Linked DNA regions of Homo sapiens. The protein of the gene in region 4 purifies or fractionates together with the protein of the main gene of each other region. This does not show direct contact. Each region holds a gene or a part of one and is shown on either strand. Other genes may lie near its edges. The genes, in order: UTP15, EIF2A, DDX11, KLHL34, MAP1S, BAG1 and ARHGEF1.

What was found.
Region 1: the proteins of KLHL34 (region 4) and UTP15 purify together in Homo sapiens (affinity purification with mass spectrometry; one large-scale study listed by BioGRID and IntAct). This does not show direct contact.
Region 2: the proteins of KLHL34 (region 4) and EIF2A purify together in Homo sapiens (affinity purification with mass spectrometry; one large-scale study listed by BioGRID and IntAct). This does not show direct contact.
Region 3: the proteins of KLHL34 (region 4) and DDX11 purify together in Homo sapiens (affinity purification with mass spectrometry; one large-scale study listed by BioGRID and IntAct). This does not show direct contact.
Region 5: the proteins of KLHL34 (region 4) and MAP1S purify together in Homo sapiens (affinity purification with mass spectrometry; one large-scale study listed by BioGRID and IntAct). This does not show direct contact.
Region 6: the proteins of KLHL34 (region 4) and BAG1 purify together in Homo sapiens (affinity purification with mass spectrometry; 2 studies listed by BioGRID and IntAct, with this or other methods). This does not show direct contact.
Region 7: the proteins of KLHL34 (region 4) and ARHGEF1 purify together in Homo sapiens (affinity purification with mass spectrometry; one large-scale study listed by BioGRID and IntAct). This does not show direct contact.

What each region holds. Positions count from the first base shown.
Region 1 is NC_000005.10:73,568,743-73,572,242, reverse strand, and holds part of UTP15 (U3 small nucleolar RNA-associated protein 15 homolog), read right to left. Parts: intron 2,747-3,500; coding exon 2,568-2,746; intron 1,658-2,567; coding exon 1,532-1,657; intron 1-1,531. UniProt on the Homo sapiens protein: Ribosome biogenesis factor. Involved in nucleolar processing of pre-18S ribosomal RNA. Required for optimal pre-ribosomal RNA transcription by RNA polymerase I.
Region 2 is NC_000003.12:150,563,787-150,567,286, reverse strand, and holds part of EIF2A (eukaryotic translation initiation factor 2A), read right to left. Parts: intron 2,989-3,500; coding exon 2,906-2,988; exon of another isoform or gene 181-2,905; intron 1-180. UniProt on the Homo sapiens protein: Functions in the early steps of protein synthesis of a small number of specific mRNAs. Acts by directing the binding of methionyl-tRNAi to 40S ribosomal subunits.
Region 3 is NC_000012.12:31,083,860-31,087,359, reverse strand, and holds part of DDX11 (ATP-dependent DNA helicase DDX11), read right to left. Parts: coding exon 3,299-3,500; intron 2,778-3,298; coding exon 2,691-2,777; intron 2,392-2,690; coding exon 2,234-2,391; intron 2,228-2,233; exon of another isoform or gene 1,148-2,227; intron 1,135-1,147; exon of another isoform or gene 49-1,134; intron 1-48. UniProt on the Homo sapiens protein: DNA-dependent ATPase and ATP-dependent DNA helicase that participates in various functions in genomic stability, including DNA replication, DNA repair and heterochromatin organization as well as in ribosomal RNA synthesis.
Region 4 is NC_000023.11:21,655,531-21,659,553, reverse strand, and holds the start of KLHL34 (kelch-like protein 34), read left to right. Parts: upstream 1-1,223; 5' UTR 1,224-1,765; coding exon 1,766-3,700; 3' UTR 3,701-4,023.
Region 5 is NC_000019.10:17,729,480-17,732,246, reverse strand, and holds part of MAP1S (microtubule-associated protein 1S), read right to left. Parts: intron 1-2,767. UniProt on the Homo sapiens protein: Microtubule-associated protein that mediates aggregation of mitochondria resulting in cell death and genomic destruction (MAGD). Plays a role in anchoring the microtubule organizing center to the centrosomes. Binds to DNA. Plays a role in apoptosis.
Region 6 is NC_000009.12:33,251,971-33,254,708, forward strand, and holds the end of BAG1 (BAG family molecular chaperone regulator 1), read right to left. Parts: 3' UTR 501-2,738; downstream 1-500. UniProt on the Homo sapiens protein: Co-chaperone for HSP70 and HSC70 chaperone proteins. Acts as a nucleotide-exchange factor (NEF) promoting the release of ADP from the HSP70 and HSC70 proteins thereby triggering client/substrate protein release.
Region 7 is NC_000019.10:41,896,684-41,900,183, forward strand, and holds part of ARHGEF1 (rho guanine nucleotide exchange factor 1), read left to right. Parts: intron 1-631; coding exon of another isoform or gene 632-643; intron 644-1,262; coding exon of another isoform or gene 1,263-1,430; intron 1,431-1,758; coding exon 1,759-1,904; intron 1,905-3,500. UniProt on the Homo sapiens protein: Seems to play a role in the regulation of RhoA GTPase by guanine nucleotide-binding alpha-12 (GNA12) and alpha-13 (GNA13) subunits. Acts as a GTPase-activating protein (GAP) for GNA12 and GNA13, and as guanine nucleotide exchange factor (GEF) for RhoA GTPase.

The DNA.
Region 1 (3,500 bases), on a different chromosome or scaffold from region 4:
TAAATGTATAACTGAAAGAGTCCATTTTAAGAAAATTATAATAAAATCATTTTTTAAAAGAAATTCTATATAGCAGTGGAAGTGAATAATGTAGATCTGCAGCAAAATATCAAGCAAAAAAGTCTAATATGGAAAGACAGAAAAAGGGATGGAAGGGGAGACTGAAATCTTGACTGGGGAACAGGAGTTGGAACCCAACTCACAGTTCCCACCTCTCCACTCCTATGTGGCACCTCACAAGAGGGATCACAGTTGAAATCACTGATCTAGTCCAACCCTCTCATTTTCAAGGTCTAGAGACCTTAAGGGATTGCCCGAGGTCACAATTAGCTAGTGACACACAGTGGAGATCAGCACACAGCTTTCTATTCTCCCTGTTCAACATGATATTTTTTCCATTTGTCAGAATAACAGCAAGAAAAGTAGACACATCTGACATTATCAACTTTTTTCTTTTTTTAATTAAAGATGGAGTCTTAGAGTCTTGCTATGTTGCCCAGGCTGGTCTCAAACTCCTGGACTCAAGCTATCCGCCTGCCTCAGCCTCCCAAAGTGCTAGGATTACAGGCGTGAGCAACCACATCCCGCCTCAACTTATTTTTAAATCAAATAGGTACTGGGGAAAAGAATATAAAACAGAGTAATTTCTAGCCAGATTTTAGAATTAAGAAAAAAAAAAAAAGGAGGTACACACAGCAATATATATGTTGTCAAGTATACATACTACCTATACATTCTTCTAATATGAACACATTTTTACTTTATTTACAAATGAAAAAAGCCAATTTACTTCTTCCACTGTAATTATGAAAATGCAATATGTGCAAAATGAGAAAAACATCTCAGTCCCAACTTGTTGAAAAATGTACCAAGGCCCCTTTTGAGGCCACATTATCTCCTTTCTCTAGTACTAGCAGCTATTTGCTGGGTAGTGGCATTTCAATCAAGAGAGTCACAGAAAAAGAGACAAGCCTACTAGATCTCAAATAACTGATTTTCAAAAGCTGCTGCAGATCTCTTAGGTAGGAGTAAAAGGAGTATGAGCTAAATTTCTGGGGTTAAATAAGATGGCACAGGGCTAAATACATAAGAGCTAAATTTCTGGGGTTAAATAAGATGGCACAGGGCTAAATTTCTGGGGTTAAATAAGATGGCACAGGGCTAAATAAATAAGATGGCACAGGGCTAAATACACAGAGCTCTCGAGTTCTGTGATTTCAGATCTGCCACTTACCACTTTGCCTTGAAAAATAAGTTAAAACTTTTATTTCATTGCTGTAAAGTAGGGAAAAAGCTAACTACCTTGTAGCATCATCTAGGGCATTAGAGTTCATATGTAACAGCACAGTGCCTGGCTCACATTAGGTACACAATAAATGATAACTGCTTGCCAGTCCTACCTATCAACTGTTTGAACAAAGACTTAGATATGCAATTCAAATGCACACTGATAAATTACAAAGAGCAACTGATTTTAAACAAACGTGATTCAAAACCAACAATATTGGTGAAAGCTATTTTTAAGAAGTACCTGCTGACACCAGAAGACCTCCAGAGGGGAAAAGTAGGACACTCTCCACTGGCTGCCCATGCTCAACGGAGAGAACACTCTCACTCGTTCGTGCATCAAACATCTTCACAGTATGATCATATGATCCTAAAATGTCAATTTTTGAATTTTTAGTTTGACTGTTTAAAACAACAAAAACTGTGTGTATCCAGATATAAATTTTAAAAGGAAAAAAAGCTTAGATGGAGTTTTAAAAAGACATATATGTATATTCATGAAGACACAGGACCTCCAAACCATCTACTACTGATCGTGTCTGAAGAAGCACTACATAATACTATACAGAATCTAACTTGCTCTGATCTTAAAATATTTCTTTCTTTGGACTACTGTCACTACTGAATCATCTGGAAATCTTTGTAAAGGCACCCACAAAGGCTAAACTGCACTCTTTGTTTCTTGGCTGCTTGAGGCAGGGTACTATACATTACAGTTCTGAGAGTCTATTATGTTTTCAAGACAGCCTGATTTTTCCAAACACATTTGGAAGACATGAACAATCAACAAAAGAAGAATAAGAAAATAAAAAACAATTGGAAGCCAGGCATGGTGGCTCACACTTGTAATCCCAGTCCTCCGGGAGGAAATTGAGGTAGGTGGATCACTTGAGCCCAGGAGTTCGAGACCAGCCTGGGCAACATGGCAAAACCGTCTCTACAAAAAAATACACAAAGTAGCTGGACGTGGTGGTGGGCACCTGTAGTCCCAGCTACTTGGGAGGCTTATGTGGGAGGATCACTTGAGCCCAGGAGGTAGCAGATGCAGTGAGCTATGGTCACATCACTGCACTCCAGCCTGGGCAACAGAGTGAGACCCTGTCTGAAAATAAATGCAAACATACATACATAAAAATTAATTTAAAAACTGAAGAATTAATCAGAAACATATTCCTTTATAAAAAAAATTTAAACCCCTCCATCCCAAAAGAGTCCCATAGCAACATTAAAGTACATCCCCGTGAGATTATTTGCTTCAGGAGGGAATAGAGTTCACCAACCTGTTATAAAGAGATCCGGATTAAGTTTGCTAGCACATCCACACCTCACATAATCAGAGTGTTCTTTAAATGTCAAAATTTCTTTGGAGTTTGGAATATCCCATAATTTAACTGTATAATCATCAGCCCCAGAGACCACGTGATATTTGTCAGCTGTAAAATCTACTGTATGAACTGCTCTGAAAGATTGAAGGTCAGTATATTAAAAAGCAAGAAAATTATTTTTCTGATACCTTCTAACATAAAATGCTCCTTTTTCTCAGATTAAAAAAAAAGCAGCTGAGTTTCAGGGAGTCTTCATAGGGGGAAATCATGAAAGAAAGAGAAAACTTACAAGTGTTTGCCCCCAAACCAATTAAGAAGTGTAAATACTCCTATATTGTAAAGTTAAAAAAAATTAAAGGATAGCCTTAAAATTATATTTTCTAGTATATAAACAATTCCACTTAGCTGCTGAATATGGAAGCAAAGGCACTTTAATTTTTAAAATTTCAAAAAGTTCTTTAAAAAACTCTAAAGAGATTTACCACTAAATAGAATCATGTTACATAAATTTCTGTTAAATTTTAACAAATTTCAGCACGGACATTGGCAATCCTGAAAACAAAGTTATAATATAAAATTGTGATGGCCACTTAATTTATTAAGGGGCAAAACACTATAAATTCAAGAAGAAAATCCACCTTCCTACTTGACTTCAACATAAGAGCCTCTAAGACAGTACAGGCCTATAGAGCTGTCATTACCAGCTGTAAGGTTGTCTTCAGGTCAGTAATTCATAATCTCAGCTGGGCCACAGACCCCACTAAAGTTAACCAAAAGCTACAGAGTAGCTCCCTAGATAAACGTGTATTTCCTAAAATATCACATACAATTCTAGGGAATTCATAAGCCCCATGAAACTGGACCACGGAACCCAAGTTAAGCACTCTT
Region 2 (3,500 bases), on a different chromosome or scaffold from region 4:
AAATTCTGTAACTTAATGTGATAAACAGATGCATGATAATGATGATCACAACCACAGTAACAATGGCTGATATTAAGAGCTTACTCTATTCCAGGCAGTCTGAGCCATGCTATTATTAATAAAACTGCCACTCTAGTTAATTAGATCAAGAGCTAATATACTTTCTTTGTTCAATTTCAGAGATCAATGGCTTTTCAAAAGCAGCACACCAAACTGTCAAAGTGGTGATCCCTCTTCATTTGACATGCTCACAAAGAGGAGAATAAGACAAGAAAGCAAGCTAACCCAGAAACAGTGAGGTGACAGTGCGCCTCAAACACAGGAAAATAAAATGCATAACTATACTGATTGGATGCTGCTCAAAATCAGCCTACATGCCATCTTTGGTACGTGTGAACAAAGTTACCAATTCCTATTCTAACTATGATATACTCAAAACTGTACAATCAGTAATGGGATGCTCTAAAGACAAAAGAACTGCAAACCCTTTTTAAAAAATTATTTTCAGTAACAGTGTTACTTTTTGGTATTAAGATTGTAAGAATACCTTGTGGATAATGTGGAACAAACCAAATGAATACTTATGTGAATGTGATATTCTCAAATTATCATCCCTGGTATTCCAGAGTAACAAGATTCTTGGTGGTGACAGAAGGCAATACAAATAAGATAGAAGTTAAATAAAAACCTTGTAGTCTTCAATTTAAATAAAACTATACGTATAAAACTTTAATTTAAATAAAATTATGATTGTTACATCTTTTAAATAGAAAAAAAAGGCCTAGAAACAATGATCAATGCAACAGCAAATAAGAATCTCTAGAACCTAAATACCTTTTTTTTTGCTAGACTCAGCCAATTTTTCAAGAAACCCTATTACCTTTTAATGTTTCCTTCAATGAGATCAAGAGCTAATACTTTTTCTTTGTTCAATTTCAGAGATCAATAGCTATTCAAAAGTAGCACACCAAAAAGGCGACAGGGTTTCCTGAAAAATTAGCCAGTTCTAGGTGTAATGGTTAGAAATGTACAAATTAATCCTAGAATGACTTGTCTTACCATATAGCAAAGAAGTCACTAAGGATTAATTGATCAAAGATGAGACAATTTGAGCATCAATAAGAAAAATAACTACAATGGACTGAAACACATACCTTTTAAATCCACAGCTCATTAAGAATGGGACTAAAAAGGCCAGGCGTGGTGGCTCACGCCTGTAATGCCAGCACTTTGGGAGGGTGAGGCAGGTGGATCACCTGAGGTCGGGAGCTCGAGACCAGCCTGACCAACATGGCGAAACCCCATCTCTACTAAAAATACAAAATTGGCCGGGCATGTTGGCACATGCCTGTAATCTCAGCTACTCAGGAGGCTGAGGCAGGAGAATCGCTTGAACCTGGGAGGCAGAGGTTGCGGTAAGCCGAGATCGCACCATTGCACTCCAGCCCGGGCAACAACAGCGAAACTCCATCTCAAAAAAAAAAAAAAAAAAAAAAAAGAATGGAACTAAAAAACAGCCTGGGCAACATAATGAGATCCTGTCTCTACAAATAATCAAAAATTAGCCGGGCATGGTGGTGCAAGCCTGTAGTCCCAGCTACTTGGGAGGCTGAGGCAGGAGAATTGCTTGAGCCCAGGAAGTCGAGATTGCAGTGAGCCATGATTGCACTCAGCTTGGACAAAAGAATGAGGCCCACTCTCGAAAAACAAGAATGGGGAAAAAGCTAATTGGTTACAATGAAGGTTGCTAGAGGTGGAATACATTATATTAAAACTGATAAGAGCAAGAATATTTATCCCGCCTTTTCTATATAAATGCAGCACTAGGTAACCAAATAGTAGAAGGGGAAATTTTTCTTTATAGAAGCAGTACAGCTGAAAAATAAGTGAGGGAGAAAAAACCAGAGTATCAACAATTTGCAACCACTGATGAAATAATGCATCCAGGCATGAAACATTAATGTCAGCTAAGCCTACAAAATTAAAGACAACCAGACATTATGTGCTTCTTGATAAAAGAAGTGAACATCACCTTATAATGTAGTCTTACCCTTACTCACCTAAAAAAGAACCTGAAGCTGAAACTCTAGAGCCAACTTGCAATTTATAGGGGACAGATGAACATGTTAAATTATACCATGGGATACAAAAGCAAAATTCAAACTATGGGAAAACGTGAAAGACAAATAACCTTGTTTCTTAAACAATAAATTATGAAGAATAAAATAACAGATAGAGTGGGAACTTATAGGACCAAAAGAAACATAAAAGATATATCAATCAACCACAATGTGCAGTACCTTATTTGGATCCCGAGTTTTAAAAAAAATTGTAACATTTGCAATTAGTAGAAATTTGAACACATATTTAATAATTTGTGATAATGGTTTTGTGGCTAAGTTTAAAAAATGAAAGGCCCCAATCTTCAGAAATCTACTCTGAAATATTTACAATTACATATTTAACAAGTATATAAAAGTATAACCATATCTGGGATTTGCTTTCACTTAGTAAGAGATGGTAGCTGGAGAGATGTATGGATGAGATAAGATTGGCCACAAGCTGATGGTTACTAGAACTAGGTGTCTGAAGTTTAAAATTCTACACGATAAAATATCTAAAAAATTTGTGTCACAGAATTTCAATAGCAATTAAATTCAGGAAAAGATATTCAAATGTCTTAATAGCAATTACCAGATAATAAAAAGTTATTGTAAAAGAAAACCTTTGTGTTACAGATTTTCACTGAATTCAGACTTATAAAGAATTATGCAAATGTATGTAAGAGTAATTATTGATTAATAGATTAACAGTATTTAGGAAAACCCTATGATGTCATAAAAGTTAATGGAAACTGTATACGATTACAGTAAGTAATAAAATTATGTCATAAATCTTTCCATACTAAAATTGTTGTTTTCAAAGAAGTGAACTTCATTGTTAACATTGCGGGCACAAAGAGTTTCATCTTCTGACCAGGATGGACACCTATGTCAATGAAAAAAAAAAAAAGTATAAAAAATATTCAGACAGAATGTAACATCACATTAACATGTTAAAGTAATTTATGATATTGGTTACCATTTAAGGAAAAACACTTATAAACACTTATAAATATGATATTAAGTCAGTTACTAATAGTTTTAGTCAATATATGTTAATAGAAAAGGCCAGGTGCGGTGGCTCACACCTGCAATCCCAGCACTTTGGGAGGCCAAGGCAGGTGGATCACCTGAGGTCAGGAGTTCAAGACCAGCCTGGCCAACATGGTGAAACCCCATCTCTACTAAAAATACAAAAATTAGCCAGGCATGGTGGCACGTGCCTGTAGTCCCAGCTACTTGGGAGGCTGAGGCAGGTGAAATTGCTTGAACCTAGAAGGCAGAGGTTGCCGTGAGCCAAGATCAGGCCATTGCACTCCAGCCTGGGTGACAGAGCGAGACTCCCTCTCAAACAAACAAAAAAAAGAAAACATTGTTCCTTTCCACTTAATACTAAAG
Region 3 (3,500 bases), on a different chromosome or scaffold from region 4:
GGGAGGACCCAGGTCGGCCTTGTTTCTGCTGAGTCCCCGTGGCCTCACCTAGAGCTTGGTATGCAGCAGGAACCCCATGACCATCTCCTGGATGAAGCTACAACTGACCAATCGAGTGAACAGAGGATGCTGTCACTTATGACCAGCTACAACTCTTCTTGTGTCAGTGCCTCAGTCTGCCCTTCCCAGCAATGCGGGAAGAATCCATCAGCGCCAGGCGTTGGCAGGGAAGCCAGCCCTGCATCCCATGGCCTGAAGCTGAGCTAGCTCTACTAGTCTATGCTCCTCAGAAAACACAAAACCATCTGACAGGCACACGCTACCTATGGCAACATCACATAAAAAGAAAACATTTTTGTTCACCTCGAAATTCCTTTCTAACAAAACAGAATACAATTGTCTTGGGCTATCAGAAGAGTAATTATTACAGGCTTGGCTTCATGGTCACTAAAGAGCAGGCGGCTCTATCTTAAAAGGCTTGGATTCAATCTTATGTCGCATGCTGGACAAAGCCAGCAGGAGCTCACTGAGAGGCTGGGTGTGTGAAGAAATGAAGAGCAAAAATTTTCTATTCAGAACTCAGGTCCTCCGAGGCTCACGTTATCTCCTGAAACGTGAGGGCATGGGAAGCCCCAGAAGCTGACCTACAGGATCCATGGCTCTTGCCCAGACCTGAAGGAGCACTTTGTTCCTTTAATATTCACCACCTCCATCTCCACTCAAGTTCTCTGCCTTGTCCCCACGGGCTCTAAGGGAGAAGAGAGGGAGCAGAAACATGACCTCGGAGGCGGGCAGGAAGGGTTCATGGAGCACAAACTGTTTATGACCCCCTCTCACCAGCGAGGCATAAAGCAACACGGTGGTCTCTGCCCTGGGCAGGGGCAGAAGTCGAAGTTCACATGCGCAGCCTGGAATTACACTACCAGACTGCAACGAGGCAGCATCTGCTCATTCATGTCAACTCGATTTTATTGAGCACACCCCTATGCCAAACACTGGGTCAGCTCTGGGAACATCAAACTATAAAGACGTGGTTCCTGCCCTGAAGCAGCTCGAGCCCAGCCAGGGAGAGGAGGCAACAACAGAAGCACAAGCAGGTGCATGAGCAAAACAGAGCAGCTGACACCCGAAGCCACCAAGACGACACCTGAGCCAGGCCTTAAAGGAGAGGAAGACATCTGCCAAGGGAGGAGGGCAGGGTGTTTGGCCACAGCACGTTGCATGAGCAAATCCTCAGACAGGACAGAGGAAGGCCTGGTGCGCTGGAGGAAGTTCAGGGCAGCGGGGAAGCTGGCGTCTGGTGGATGGCGGCTGGAGGTGGCATCAGAAGGCGCCCTGCAGACAGACTGTGAAGGCCGGGGATGAACCTTCAGGAATATCCATGGAGGGTCTCTGGTCTTGCAGTTACCCTCCGACAGATGTGGTGGCCAGGATGTCACAGGACACACGGGACTCATCATCAGGTGCAGCCCCCCACCCCATCCACATCACCATTTTGTTTTCCTTGTAGGCAAACATGCTGACTTCACATAGGTGCTATTTGTTTTCATGTCTATTAACTGTCCCCTCCATGTCTTCTTCCCTTCTATGTCCACAGCATCTGGACAGTGCCATACTCAGAGCAGACACTCAGGGATGGTGGTGAGGTTCCAGTGTGAATGGGAACAGGGCTGTGACCAGGGATCCTGTGGGCCCGAAATGGCCTGGGTGGCCTGCTCAGGGCTAAGTCACCCAGCAGCTCATGGCTCATCAAGTGGAAACCTTGAGTCTGGACCAACAGAGGCTTTATGGGAGAAGGAAAGCTCAGGCTAAGGACGCCTTGATGGTTGGCACCTCACAGGTTACCCAGTGCAGTCAGCTGCCTCAGAGCCTGAGATCTAGAGCCAGGCCAGCTGAGTTCTAGCCCAGCTCTCCACTGCCGAGGCTTGTGGCCTCAGCCAAGGAGTCTCTCCTTGTGGGGCTGCAGCCTCCTTGTGTATAAGGCGCAGACACAAATGTTCCTGCCCTGCCTGAGCTGCCGTGAGGACAGCTGAGAGGACACAGGCCAGGCCGGTGACTGTCCTCACTGCCACTGGCACTCATGGACCCTAGGAAGGACCCGGCTTAGAGCAGAGGGCAGAGGCCACCATGCCTCTTGCCAGGTGCTTCATGGCATCTGTGGCATGAGGGAAAGAGCTGTCTTCAAGGGTGTCCCCTGGCCTGGGGCAGGGTAGTGCTACCGCCTCTGTCTCACCTGCTCGCCACCTTTTTCTCCTCATCACTCTCGTATTCGGCGAGGACCAGCTCCTCCTCCCCAGACTCCAGCTGCTCCAGCCGCTCAGCCTCCGGGCCTGTCTCTAGCATCTCCCTGCTGAGGCGGAGGAGATTCTCTCTTTCTTCTTCTTCCTGCCTCTGGACAGGGGTAGTGGAGGTGGTGAGGGAGGAAGAAGTCTCAGCACCAGTACCCACCTCCCCACATGCCAGAGACAAAGCACACCACGCCCCATTCACATAGGCCTGGCTGCCTGGCTGGAGAGAGGTCGACTCCTAGGATCCACGCCTCAACCACTCACAGCCCAGCTTCTGTACGGGAGCACATAGCCAGTGAGGGTCACGGAGGGGAGACCAAGGCCCTGACCACGCACCCATGAGCCTCCAAGCAGAGCAACCCTGCCTGGACATAATCCTGCCCCCCAAGAAATGAGGCTCACCAGGCGCTTGGCTGCATACTTGAGCTGCACCCTGTGCTGCAGCTGCTGCAGGCGTTCTTCTCGCTGCTTCCTCCTGGCCTGCTCCGCCTACAGGAGGCAGACATGAAGGAAAATCACCAAGGAAGCCCAAAACCAGGCCTCTCCTAAGGAGTCTGGGCCACTCAGCCCGGCGCCTCCTCACTGGGGGCATCTCTCCTTCCCCGGCCAGCACTCAAGGGCTGCCGCATCCCCTCCCGGGACCTCATCCCTGCCGGTCCCAGCCTCGCTGCTCACTGCGGAAGGCGGCACACTCCTCCCAAAGCCACACGCTCTCCATCAGATCCATTTGCAGCCATTGAACCATGCTGCCAATGGCAATGATCAGGTCCTTTCCCAGGTGAGTAATAAATGGGCACCAACAGTTCCTTATGTGGAGAAGGCCTGCTGACCTCCAGCTCAAAAAAGACAGCACAGCGGCAGCACCATAGACCCAAGGAGCTGAGGGAAGAGCTGAGAGGCACGGCAACGGCAGGGGAGCATGCACTGCCTGAGTCTCGGAATCGCCCCAGAACAATCGCTGAAGCCCTGTTTCCTCCAGTACTCCCACTTCCGGATACCCCAGGTCTCACCTTTAGTCGGTCCACCAGGTCCCTCTCTTCTTTCTTCTGCACAAACTGAGTAACCCAGGCCGGTTCTCCAGCAGGCCTCGGGGTGCCTGCAGCCCCTTCGCAGGAAGAAGACAGACACAGGGATTCATCTTTCTCATCATGTAAGGGGCCAGTTCCAGTTTCAAGGAGTCGTGCCTCTTCTTCACGCTTCTTCTGTTCAAAG
Region 4 (4,023 bases):
TCTCCAAATTGGCAAAAAATAAATAAATAAATAAATAAATAAATAAATAAATAAATAAATAAAATAAATAGAAAGAAAGAAAAAGACCAGTTATATTAATCATTTAGTTATTTAAGAACAGGATGGAGATGGAGAGATGCTTTCCTAAAGTCTCAAGATCAGGCTGGTTTTAGTCATTTCCATGCTGGGGCGTTTCTTGTAAAAAATAACTTTATGAGGAAGGGCCCTACGAAATTCCAGCTTTACCGAGCTTGCAACCGTACGGCTCATTATCCCGGGATAACATCGAGGATGTAGCAGCCAGTAATTAGATCAGAGCGTGGAAAATCGGGGAGAGAAATTGGAAGGAATGACTTTTTTTTTTTTTCCCCAAAGGAAGTGTACAATGAGTGGCAGAAAATCCAAGTCAACCACAGTTTCCTTGTTCATGCTGCAAAGGGATGGGTCGGGGCAGGGTCCAAGAATAGGAAGGGAAAACTCAGGTGAGGTCTGGGAACGGGCGTGGGAACAAAGGTGAAACGAGCCAGCCTGGGAGACGCGAGCTGCCTCAGGAAGGGCTCAGAGTAGGCCCAGAATCTCTCAAGGGTGAGTCCAGGTGAGGGACACGTTACCTAGCGCCGCTGGCGGGGAGCTTGGGATTCGCCCGGGCGTGGTTCCCGCCAGTGCCTCTTCAGCGCGCAGCGGCCTACTGGGTGTCAGCGCGCAAAGTCGCAGCTTAATCCTCGCTCCCGCTGGATTAATTAGGGCCTCTTCAAAGCAGAAAGTTGAGCCAGGGCTTCTTTCCCAGACACAGGGACACCGGGAGGTCTACACTCCTCCTGCCCAGCCGGACGCCCCTCCGCCGACACTACCGGGTCGAGGGGCTCCGGCGACTCGTGCCTCTCCAGTGAACTCCGGCTCCCGCAACCCCAACCGGGTTCCTGGGACCCTCTGGTGACACTGGTGGCCAGTAGGGTCACTGGAGTCAAGCCCTTGGCCCGGGCCGCTTCACCCGCGCCCGTGCCCTCGGTTCGCGGCCAGCAGTCAGGGCACGGGGCGGGGCGCGCCCGGGAGGCCGAGGCGGCGCGCTATTCCTGTCGCTGTGAGCTACCGGCATGTTATGTGCGGCGCCCAATCACGCCTCTGACCCGCCGCTCTGACCTGCGCCCTCCCCTCCCTAATCCCCTAGGCTTTGAGTTGATCCTCCGCGCGGAACAAGCTCACCCCCCCACTGCCCCGTGACCAGTTGTCCCCGGCCTTCGCGGGTGCCCGCAGAACCCGTCCTCCTCGTCCACCCCGGAGAGGTCAGAGTCCTCGCCCTGCACTCCCGGGACGCCGCATCTGCGCCGTCGGACATCCAGCACCCCCGGAGTCCACCGGCAACTCGGTTCTTCCAGGTGATGGTGTGCAGCCACCGCCGCCCCTGGCGTGCAGGTGTGGGCTCTCCACATTGGGCCGGGGAGGGGACTTCGGGCAACGCGCTGGAAGCCTCGGCAGTCGTGGAAACCAAGCCCCACACTCCCGGGAAGCCTCCAAATTCCGCGCCCTCCGTTACTAGGGGCCTCCGAAAACCGTTTCCAGACTGGATTTGCTCTGAGAGGGGCACTGGGCGATCTGCAGGTCTGGATGAAGGAGCCCTGGGCTTTAAACTGAGCAGGCAGAAATGGGCCCCTGCTAGGGGCTCTGTGGCTTACGCGGGGGTCCCGGGAGTGTTGTGCCCCGGGATGCCTCCGGCCCTGCCCAGCAGGCCTCTGGTCCCACCAGGCTGCTTCCAGCCCTGGGTAGAATGAGTTACTTCCTGTCTTACTGCAAAGCTCATGGCGGCGCGCTGCTCACCGGCTACCAGGCCCTGCGCGCCGAGGGCTTCCTGTGCGACGTGACACTGGAGACCGAGGGCAGCGAATTCCCGGCGCACAGGTCGCTCCTGGCGTGCTCCAGTGACTACTTCAGGGCCCTGTTCAAGAGCCACACCCAGGAATCCCGGGCGCGCGTGATCCACCTGCACGTGCCATCGGCAGCCGGCCTGCAGCGCCTGCTGGACTTCATCTACACTGCCTGGCTGTCGCTTTCCATGGACACTGTAGAGGACACTCTGGAGGCCGCCAGCTACCTGCAGGTCACTGAGGCCCTGGGGCTCTGTGGGCGCTACTTGGAGCGCCAGCTGGCTCCAGAGAACTGCTGCTTCGCCGCCAACGTGGCAGCGCGCTTTGGCCTGGCTCACACGCTGGACGCGGCCGAGCGCTGCATCGTGAGCCACTTGCAGGAGCTGCTGGCGCGGGGCGCGGGCCCCGCGGGACTCCTGGAGCTCAACCCTACATCGCTGAGGGCTGTACTGGGTGCCCCCGACGTGGCGCGGGTGCCCGAGGCCCGGCTACTGGGCCTGGCGTTAGCTTGGTTGCGGCAGGAGCCCACAACTGAGCGCCTGGCACACTGTACAGAGTTGCTGGAGCGTGTCCGCTTTGGCCTGGTTCCCGCCGACGTACTGCGGCGCGTGTACTCGGGCTCTGGCCTCGTGCTGCCCGCCCGGGTCAAGGGCCTCATCATCCAGGCCCTCAACTACCACACGACGCCCTCCCGCCAGCCGCTCATGCAGGGCGAGCAGACCAGCATCCGGAGCCCCCAGACCCGCATCTTGTTGGTGGGGGGGCGCAGGGCACGGGAGGTGGTGATTGAGGAGGTCGCGGCCCCGCAGAGGGCAGCTAGGGGCCAGGTCGCCGCCCCAGAGCCCGAGGAAGAAGAGGAAGAGTTGGAGGAAGAGGAGGAGGAGGAGGAGTGGGAGCTCACCCAGAACGTGGTGGCCTTCGATGTGTACAATCACCGCTGGCGCAGCCTTACGCAGCTACCCACACCACTGCTGGGGCACAGCGTGTGCACCGCGGGCAACTTCCTGTTTGTCCTGGGTGGGGAGAGCCCTTCCGGCAGTGCATCCTCTCCCCTGGCCGACGACTCGCGGGTGGTCACGGCCCAAGTGCACCGTTACGACCCGCGCTTCCACGCTTGGACGGAAGTGCCCGCCATGCGGGAAGCGCGGGCCCACTTCTGGTGCGGCGCGGTGGGCGAGAGGCTCCTGGCCGTCGGGGGCCTGGGTGCGGGCGGTGAGGTGCTGGCCTCGGTGGAGATGTACGACCTGCGTCGGGACCGCTGGACGGCGGCTGGGGCACTACCGCGGGCTCTGCACGGTCACGCGGGGGCCGTCGGGGACCGCGGTGTTGTGTACATCTCGGGGGGCAAGGCAGGGAGAGGCGAGGGCGGAGCGAGCAGCCTCCGGGACTTATACGTCCTGGGCCCTGAGGAGCAGGTTTGGAGCAAGAAGGCACCCATGGGCACCGCACGTTTCGGGCACCACATGGCAGTGCTGCGCGGCGCTGTGTTTGCTTTTCTGGGGCGATACGAGCCCTTCTCTGAGATCGAGCGCTACGACCCCGGCGCCGACCAGTGGACTCGGTTGCGGCCGCTGCCCTACGACCGCTTCTGCTATGGGCTGGCCGTGGTCGAGGAGACAGCGTTGCTGCTGGGCGGCCTCAAGTGGCGGGACTCGCGCCAGGTGCCTACCCGCAACGTAGTGGGCTACGACCTCGACCTGGACCGTTGGGAGGACATCGGCTGCGCGTTGCCCTGGGCCTGGAGCGGCCTGCGGTGCGCAGTGCTGCAGCTGGCCGAGGGTGGGGACGACGAGAGGGAGGGAGAGGTTGGAGAGGCGCTAGATTTGGTGCTGGGCTGAATGGGTCAGTCCGGTTTCCTTCCGCAATGGAGGAGAAAGTCGCGCTTGGTTAGTCTTACAGAGCAACGGATGGGCTTTTTCTAAGAAAGGGATTCTGGGAGCAGAGTGGCTTCTGAAGGTTAACAGGCAAACAAGGCCTTGAGCAAAGAGAAACATTTCTCCTTGAGCTGAGAATGGGAGACAGCGGGGCGGGGGGTCAAATAGAAGGCTATATGAATCAACTTCAGTGAGCTGGTGAAAGAAAATTTTTAGAAAGGCTCACGCAAGGCTAGAGAAGGACTTTCACAAATAAAATATGACCTTATTTTCCCTCTTACAGTTAA
Region 5 (2,767 bases), on a different chromosome or scaffold from region 4:
AAAAATAGAAAATCAGCACATACCTGTAGCTAGCAAGGAGAATGAATCAGTAACTTACGACCTCCCAACAAAGAAAAGCCCTGGGGAAGCCACTAAACATTTAGAGAACTAACATCAGCCTTTCTCAAACTTTTCCGAGGAACTGAAGAGGAAGGAACACTTCCTAACTCATTTTATAAGACCAGAATTGTCTTAATACCAAAGCCAGGCACAGATATTTAATTCTACAAGAAAATGCCAGTTCAACAGACTTTATGAACAATAATGTAAAAAATCAGGCCTGGGGGTGCAGTGGCTCACGCCTGTAATCCCAGCACTTTGGGAGGCTGAGGCAGGCAGATCACTTGAGGTCAGGAGTTCAAGACCAGCCTAGCCAACATGGCGAAACCCTGTCTCTTACTAAAAATACAAAAATTAGCTGGGCGTGGTGGCAGGTGCCTGTAATCCCAGCTACTCGGGAGGCAGAGGCAGGAGAACTGCTTGAACCCAGGAAGTGGAGGTTGCAGTGAGCTGAGATTGTGCCACTGCACTCCAGCCTGGGCGACAGAGTGAGACTCCATCTCAAAAAATAATAATAAACGAATTCAGCAAAGAAGCAAGGTACAAAGTCCACAGGCAAAACACAGTTGAATTTCTATACATGAACAATGAACAATGTGAAAAGGAGATTAAACAATCATGAAATAGAAGAATCAAGATAGAGGACTCACACTTCCAGATTTCAAAACTTACTACAAAGCTACAGTAATCAAAACAGCGTGGCACTGGCATAAAGACAGACATATAGACCAATGGAATACAATAGAGGCCCGGAAATAAATCATCACATGTATGCTGAAATGATCTTCAACAAGCGTTCCAAACATTCAATGGGGAAAGGATAGTCTTTTCAACAAATGGTGCTGGGAAAGCTGGGCTTCCACATGCAAGAGAATGACACTGGATCTTTTCACCACATACAAAAATTACCTCCAAATGGACCTAAATGTGAAATGGAAAACTTAAAACTCCTGGAAGAAAACATGGGGTAGAAGCTTCTCACTGTTGGATTTGACCAGGCATGGTGACTCACATCTATAATCTTAGTACTCTGGGAGGCCGAGGCGGGCAGATCACTTGAGGTCAGGAGTTTGAAACCAGCCTGGCCAACGTGGTGAAACCCCGTGTCTACTAAAAACACAAAAAAAATTAGCCAGGTGTGGTGGTGGGTGCCTGTAATCGCAGCTACTCAGGAAGGCTGAGGCAGGAGAATCGCTTGAACCCGGGAGGCGGAGGTTGCAGTGAGCCAAGATAGTGCTCCCATGCTGCAGCCTGGGCAACAGAGCCAGACTCATCTGAAAAAAAAAAAAAAGAAAAAGAAAAAAGAAAAAAAATCGATGTGGCAATCATTTATTGGGTCTGACATCAAAAGTGCAGACAACAAAAGAAAAAAATAGACAAAATGGACTTCATGAGAATTTAAAACTTTTGTGCATCAAAGGGCACTATCAAAAGAATAAAAAGGCAGCTCACAGAATGGGAGGAAATATTTGCAAGCCATTTATCTGCTAAAGGATTAATGTCCAGAATGATTTAAAAAACTCCTAAAACTCAGCAACGGAAAACAACTCAATTTAAAAATGGGCAAAGGGGGCTAGGTATGGTGGCTCATGCCTGTAATCCCAACAGTTTGGGAGGCCAAGGCGAGAGAATCGCTTGAGGCTGGGAGTTCAAGATCAGCCTGGGCAACATAGTGAGACTCCATCTCTACAAAACATTAAACAATTGGCCAGGCACGATGGCATGCACCTGTGTAGTCCCAGCTACTTGGGAGGCTGAGCTGGGAGGATCACTTGAGCCCAGGAAGTTGAGGCTATAATGAGCTGTGTTTGCACTACACTCCAGCATGGGTAACAGACCGAGACCCTGTCTCTAAAAAGTAAAACAAAATTTTAAAATGAGCAAAGGAATTGAATAGACATTTCTCCAAAGAAGACAGACAAATGGCCAATAGGCATATGAAAAGATGCAACATCACTAATCATTAGGGACATGGAAATCAAAACCACAATGAGATCCCACCTCACACCCATTAGACTGGCTAGCGTCAAGCAGCTGCTGTGGAAAACAGTCTGGCGGTTCATCCAAAATTAAACGTTGAGTCGGGCGTGGTGGCTTATGCCTATAATCCCAGCACTTTGGGAGGCCGAGGCCAAAGGATCACTTGAGTTCAGGAGTTCAAGACCAGCCAGGGCAACATAGTGAGACCCCAGTGCTACTGAAAAATTTTAAAATTAGCTGGGCGTAGGCTGGGCACAGTGGCTCACGTCTGTAATCCCAGTACTTTGGGAGGCCGAGGCGGGCAGATCACGAGGCCAGGAGTTCGAGACCGGCCTGACCAGCATGGTGAAACCCCATCTCTACTAAAAATACAAAAATTAGCTGGGCATGGTTGCGCATGCCTGTAATCTCAGCTACTTGGGAGGCTGAGGTAGGAGAATCGCTTGACCCCGGGAGGTAGAGGTTGCAGTGAGCTCAGATCGCACCACTGCACTCCAGCCTGGTGACAGAGCAAGACTCCATCTCAAAAAAAAATTAGCTGGCCGTTATGGTGCGTGTCTGTGGTCCCACCTGTTCGGGAGGTTGAGGTGGGAGGGTTGCTTGAACCCAGGAGGTCGAGGCTGCAGTGAGCCATGTTTGCGCCACTGCACTCCAGCCTGGATGACAGAGTGAGACTCTGTCTCAGAAAAAAAACAAAGAACAGCACAGCAGGCCAGAGACCCTCCTC
Region 6 (2,738 bases), on a different chromosome or scaffold from region 4:
CCTTCTCACGGGAGAAGAAGGGGTGCTCTCTCCCCTTCTCACGGGAGAAGAAGGGGTGCTCTCTCCCCTTCTCACGGGAGAAGAAGGGGTGCTCTCTCCCCTTCTCACGGGAGAAGAAGGGGTGCTCTCTCCCCTTCTCACGGGAGAAGAAGGGGTGCTCTCTCCCCTTCTCACGGGAGAAGAAGGGGTGCTCTCTCCCCTTCTCACGGGAGAAGAAGGGGTGCTCTCTCCCCTTCTCACGGGAGAAGAAGGGGTGCTCTCTCCCCTTCTCACGGGAGAAGAGTTTCACAGGCAGAAACCCCTTGGGTGAGCAGATCTGCGTGGGTGGGGCCTGTGCAATCACCTATCACATCTGCCCAGCAGTCCATGCATTAGGGCCTCTTTTCTCAACCCTTAAGACAATAAAGGCTGTTAAGGCTGTAAATTCCAATGCTGACGGAGATTCTGAGGCCAAATGCAGCTATAGAAGTTTCACTATTGATGTGTGCATTCAACATTCATTTGTTCTCCAAATATTTATTGAGGTCTTACTATATACAAGACTATATAACAAGTTATGCTTGTTATATATGTTATATATGTTATGTTATATATATATATGTTATATATGTAATATAACTATATTACAAGTTATGCTTGAAATAATGCTGTTACCAAGATAAAGAAGCTCCTTCACCCAAGGAACCCTGGTGTTAAAGGCAAAGATTAACCAAATAATCCCACAAGTAAACTATCATGGACTATGTAAATGCTGTGAAAGAAATGTATGGGAAGTCGAGAGAGGATCCCACCTGGGGGCTGGACAGGGTCTCAACACAGTAGGTGAGGGTTCTCCATGCAAGAGACATGTGAGTTGAATTCTGAAGGATGAACAAAAGTCACCTATACAAGGGTAGGGTTGGAGGAAGGAAGGTGAGGAGCTGTTCAAGCAGAGGTAGTAGCAGGAGCAAAGACCCCCAGGCAGGAGAGGGTGCAGTGCATCTGAGGACCTGAAAGAAGAGTGGCTGACAGCAGACAGCCAACAAATGAGGGGGTTGAGATGAGATGGGAGAAGGCATGGGGTAAAGACTTTTGCCTAAAGAGAAAGTGAGCCATTGGAGGGTTCTAAGCAGGGGACTGACATGGCAAGATTTGCACTTCATGATCACTCGGGCTGCTCTAAAGAAAATGAACTAGAGCAGAGAGGAAGTGGGAGCTAGAGGGAGAGGCAGAGGACAAGAGGAAAAAAATCAGAGAATGGGCCTGTGCAACCCTGTGTTGGTTGAGAGGCAGTACAGTAGAGGGGAAAAGCACTGGCTCTGAAACCAAACCACCCAGCTTTGTGTCTTGGCTTTGCCGCTTACTCTACAACCTTGCGCTAATGACCTAAGTTCTCTTGGTTTCCTCATCTCTAAAATAAGGATATCTGTCTACCTCTCAAGTTATGTAAGAATTAAATGACTAATATATATGAATAGTTTAGAATGGTGTTCGGCAGTTTGGTGCACAGTAACTTCTCATTAAATGTTGTGGCCCACGCCACACAGCTATCACACAAAAATAGATCAATAGTGAACCACTCTGATTAAAGTTGGGGTGCGGTGGGCTGGGACCCGAGCCTTGTCCACAAGTCTACCTCTACTACCTTGTCTGAGGTCTTAACCTGCCCAGTCCTGAATTCCTGGGACTTCAACGACTCTCTCTCTGCCAAATGATGTGAGTCTTTAGGTAGAGTTATAGCGCAAAGGGCTACTATCAATGTTATTAAGCATAAATTATGACTAGAGCCACAGAATGATTTCCTCATTAATCCAAAAAAAAAAAAAAAAGCAAACCACTCTTCTACTTTATGATGAGCACATAAACAGTTTTTTTTTCTTTTTATTTATCTACTTTTACTTACTTAAATTTTAGAGATGGGGTCTTGCTATGTTGCCCAGACTAGACTCAAACTCCTGGGCTCAAGTGATCCTCTAGCCTCAGCCTCCCAAGTAGCTGGGACTACAGGAAGGAGCTACTGCACCTGACTCAATTTTTTTTTTTTCTGAGATGGAGTCTCACTCTGTGACCCAGGCTGGAGTGCAGGGGCGTAATCTCGGCTCACAGCAACCTCTACCTCCCAGGTTCAAATGATTCTTGTGCCTCAGCCTCCCCAGTAGCTGGGATTATAGGCACATGCCACTACGCCAAGCTAATTTTTTTTTTTTTTTTTTTTAAAGCAGAATGGGGTTTTGCTATGTTGCCTGGGCTGGTCTCAAACTCCTGGCCTCAAGTGATCCGCCCGCCTCAGCCTCCCAAAGTGCTGGGATTATAGGCATGAGCTGCTGCGCCAGGCCTTAATTTTTTAAAAACAATGATGGGGTGGGGGTGGGGGACAGTCCACAAAATGGATAGAACAGCTGTGAAGGAAACATAGAACTCAGAAGGATATGGTTAACAAAAATGCCTTTGAAGGAAGCACATGTCACTCCTGAGAAGTTTATGGTTGGCTTCACCACCTGCCTGCTTTACTCATTCTGGTGCCTTCTCTTTGCCCTTCCTAATCCATGGCTCTGGCCTGGTTTCAAGCACAGACTCAGTCAACACTGGGTTCTAACCTTCTGAAGACTTGCTTGGGGACAAGGAAGCCTTGCATCAACCACAGGCTCCATCCAAGGAACGGCCCCCTGGTATCTCATGGCCTGTGGCTAGTCAGGGTCACTGGGAGGTGAGGACAAAGTCTAGAACCCAACAACCCAGCCAGATGCTCTGGAATTAGG
Region 7 (3,500 bases), on a different chromosome or scaffold from region 4:
CCTTTTATCCTTCCTTTTTCCTCTGCTCCTTCCTCTCCTTCCTTTTTTCACTAATCCTTCTCCTCCTCCCTTCCTCTCCACCACTCCTTCCATCTCCTTTATTTCCCCCTCCTCTCTCACCTCCCCTCTCCTCTCTCACCTCCCCCATCCTCTCTCACCTCCCCCCTCCTCTCTCACCTACCCCCTCCTCTCACCTCCCCGCTCCTCTCTCACCTCCCCTCTCTTCTCTCACCTCCCTCTTCCTCTCTCACCTCCCCCCTCCTCTCTCACCTTCCCCCTCCTCTCTTTCCTCCCCACTCCTCTCTCACCTGGGTTTTCTTTCCCCACCTTCCATCCCCCTCCGATCTCCCTGCCACTTTTCATTTTTTCAGCCCTTCCTCCCCTTCTCTTTCAAGCCCCCCTGCCCCCTGCCCCCCACCCCCCGCCTCGCTCCTGCCTCCTGGTGCCCGTCCCTCAACCCCCCACCCCTCTGCTCTGTGCCCTGGGGGCCCTGTCCCCCTTACAGCTGGGGGGCAGGCTCTGCCTCCTGCCCGTCCTTGTGCCGCTGCTTTGGGGACCCTTTGGTGGGTGCGGGGAGGTGGGTCAGGTTCCATCTGGGCCCACCTCTGACCCTGTGCCCCTCTCTCCCCAGAAGGTGGAAGAGGTGGGTGCCTGGGCCCTGGGTGGGGGAAGGGCTAGCCCCTCCCCCATTTCTCCCAGCCCCTCCCCTCTCCCCATGGCCACTCCCTCCCCTTCACTCCCTGTGAGGGGTGGGTGGGGACATCACCCTCCCAGTTGAAGAGCTAAGTATGGAAATCCTCCCCACCCCATAACACCCCCTCTGTTGCCATCCCCCTGCCTCAGGGAAGGGAGGGGGTCAGTCCTATGCTCCATCCTGGGTTCCCCATCCCTTCCCCCATCAAATTTCAGTATCCCCCCTCCCCCAAGACCCCCCACTACCCCAGTGCCCCTAAAATCCCACCACTCCTCTGACTCTCTCCTCTCTTCTGTTGCATGTTTGATCCCTGTCCTGGTCACCCTTGCCCCGGTCCTGGTCTCTCCCTGTCTCTGTCCCTGTCCTGGTCTCTCCCCGTCTCTGTCCCTGTCCTCGTCTCTCCCCAATTTCTGTCCCTGCCCTGGCCTCTCCCCACCTCTGTCCCTGCCCTGGTCTCTCCCCGTCTCTGTCCCTGTCCTGGTTTCTCTTCGTCTCTGTTCTTGTCTTGGTCTCTCCTTGTCTCTGTCCCCGGCATCTGCCTGACTCTGTCCTTGGCCTCGGGGTCCAGGCTATCAGGGCGTCTGGGGCGCTCAGAGAGCCTGCGGGTGAGTGACCGCCGCCGGCCTTCCCGGGGCAGCCTCGGGGCTAAGGGCCGGGGTGGGGGCCGCTCCCGGAGCGACGTGGACATGGACCCCAGTTCCGCCACGGCAGTGCTTGGCCCTGCCCGACGAGCCACGTATGTCAACCCTCTCCCTTCCCCCATCCACTAAGGCAGCCTGGAGAATCAGGGAGGGATTGTTGTCAGAGTCACAGAGGAATGGGCGTTGGAGACCGAGGTCATTGAGGCCAACTGTGGTCACAGACCTTGGAGGAGGAGGGGGTAGAATGCTTCTAGAGATCTGGGAACTCTAGTGTGGTCCGATCTAGAGACCTGGTCTGCTGCACGGGCCACCCTGCGGGCATCGAATGCCAAGGCCACTGACCGGGGTTGAACGCTCTAAGAGGCTGAAGGCTGCTTCTTGGGATGGCCCAAGCTGGGGCCCTAACAAGGCCTCTGTCCACAGCCCCGAGCCTGGAGATGAGGGGGAGCCGGGGCGGTCGGGACTGGAGCTTGAACCAGAAGAGCCTCCCGGCTGGCGGGAACTCGTCCCCCCAGACACCCTGCACAGCCTGCCCAAGAGCCAGGTGAAGCGGCAGGAGGTCATCAGCGGTGAGTACTGCCCCCATCACCCCACTGTGGCCAAGGACACAGTCCAGCTCTGGCAAAGGCAAAGACAGGCGCAGAGAGATGTTCATCTTGGTGTCATTTACCATCGGGAGAACTTGAAGGCAGCTTCAAATTCCCTCTTGTTCCAAGTTCAGATTGTTTCAACACAGAGCATTTTGATGGAATGTGAATGCCACTGTGGAAGGGACATTTCCAAACATTTCTAGTAGTGCAATACAGTGCTGATGTTGAGAACACTGCATTTCTGGTGCAAGCTTTTATTTCCTTGCTTGTGAAATGTGGGCATTAATAGTTCCTACCTCAGATATTGTCATGAAGATGAGATGATTTGTGTGAAATGTTTAGCATAGTGCTGGGCACAGAGGAAGAGCATTTTATTTTATTTATTTTTTTAAATTTTTATTTGAGGCAGAGTCTCAGTTGGTCTCTCAGGCTGGAGTGCAGTGGCACAATCACGGCTCACTGCAGCCTTACCCTCCCAGGCTCAACTGATCCTCCCACCTCAGCCTCCCGAGTAGCTGAACAGGCATGTACCACCATGCCTGGCTAATTTTTGTATTCTTTGTAGAGATGGGGTTTCGCCATGTTGGCCAGGCTGGTCTCGAACCCTTGGGCTCAAGTGATCCTCCTACCTCAGCCTCCCAAAGTCTTGGGATTACAAGTGTGAGCCACCAGGCCCAGTCAAGGAAGAGCATTTTAATGAGATTGTTGTTACTAGTTTGATCTTAATTGCTTAGGGGAGAAAAGATCCCCACAGGGGAAAGTTTGGGAGAATGATCAGTATATTAGCAGTGCTTGCTTCTGCGTGGAGAGATGATGAGTGTATCATTTTTGTCTTTTTCCTTTTTTCCTTTGCTAATTGTGTGGTGGCTAGGGAGGCTGGTGGCAAAAAGAGAAAGCTTTTTTTTTTTTTTTTTTTTTAAGACAGAGTTTTGCTCTTGTTGCCCAGGCTGGAGTGCAATGGCACAATCTCGGCTCACCACAACCTACGCCTCCCAGGTTCAAGTGATTCTCCTGCCTCAGCCTCCTGAGTAGCTGGGATTACAGGCATGTGCCACCACGCCCGGCTAATTTTGTATTTTTAGTAGAGACGGGGTTTCTCCATGTTGGTCAGGCTGGTCTCGAACGCCCGCCTCAGCCTCCCAAAGTGCTGGGATTACAGGCGTGAGCCACTGTGCCTAGCCCAAGAGAAAGGTTTGGGACTTGACTGAAAGCTTATTTACAGATTACTTCATAGTGAAAAAGATACTTATTCAAAAATTTTAGGGGAGTAGTTGAGTACTTTTTGGGTCACAGATCCTTCTAAGGACATGATAAAAAAAAAAAAAAACATGAGCCATGTGCTACCCATTAGGACTTTCTGGAAGATGGAAATGTGCTTTATTTGTACTGCTCACCATGGGGACCATCGGCCACCTATGGCTGGTGAGCACTTGAAATGCACTAGGCCAGGCACAGTGGCTCATGCCTGTGATCCCAGCACTTTGGGAAGCCGAGGTGGGCAGATCACTTGAGGTCAGGAGTTCGAGACTAGCCTGGCCAACATGGTGAAACCCCATCTCTACTAAACATACAAAA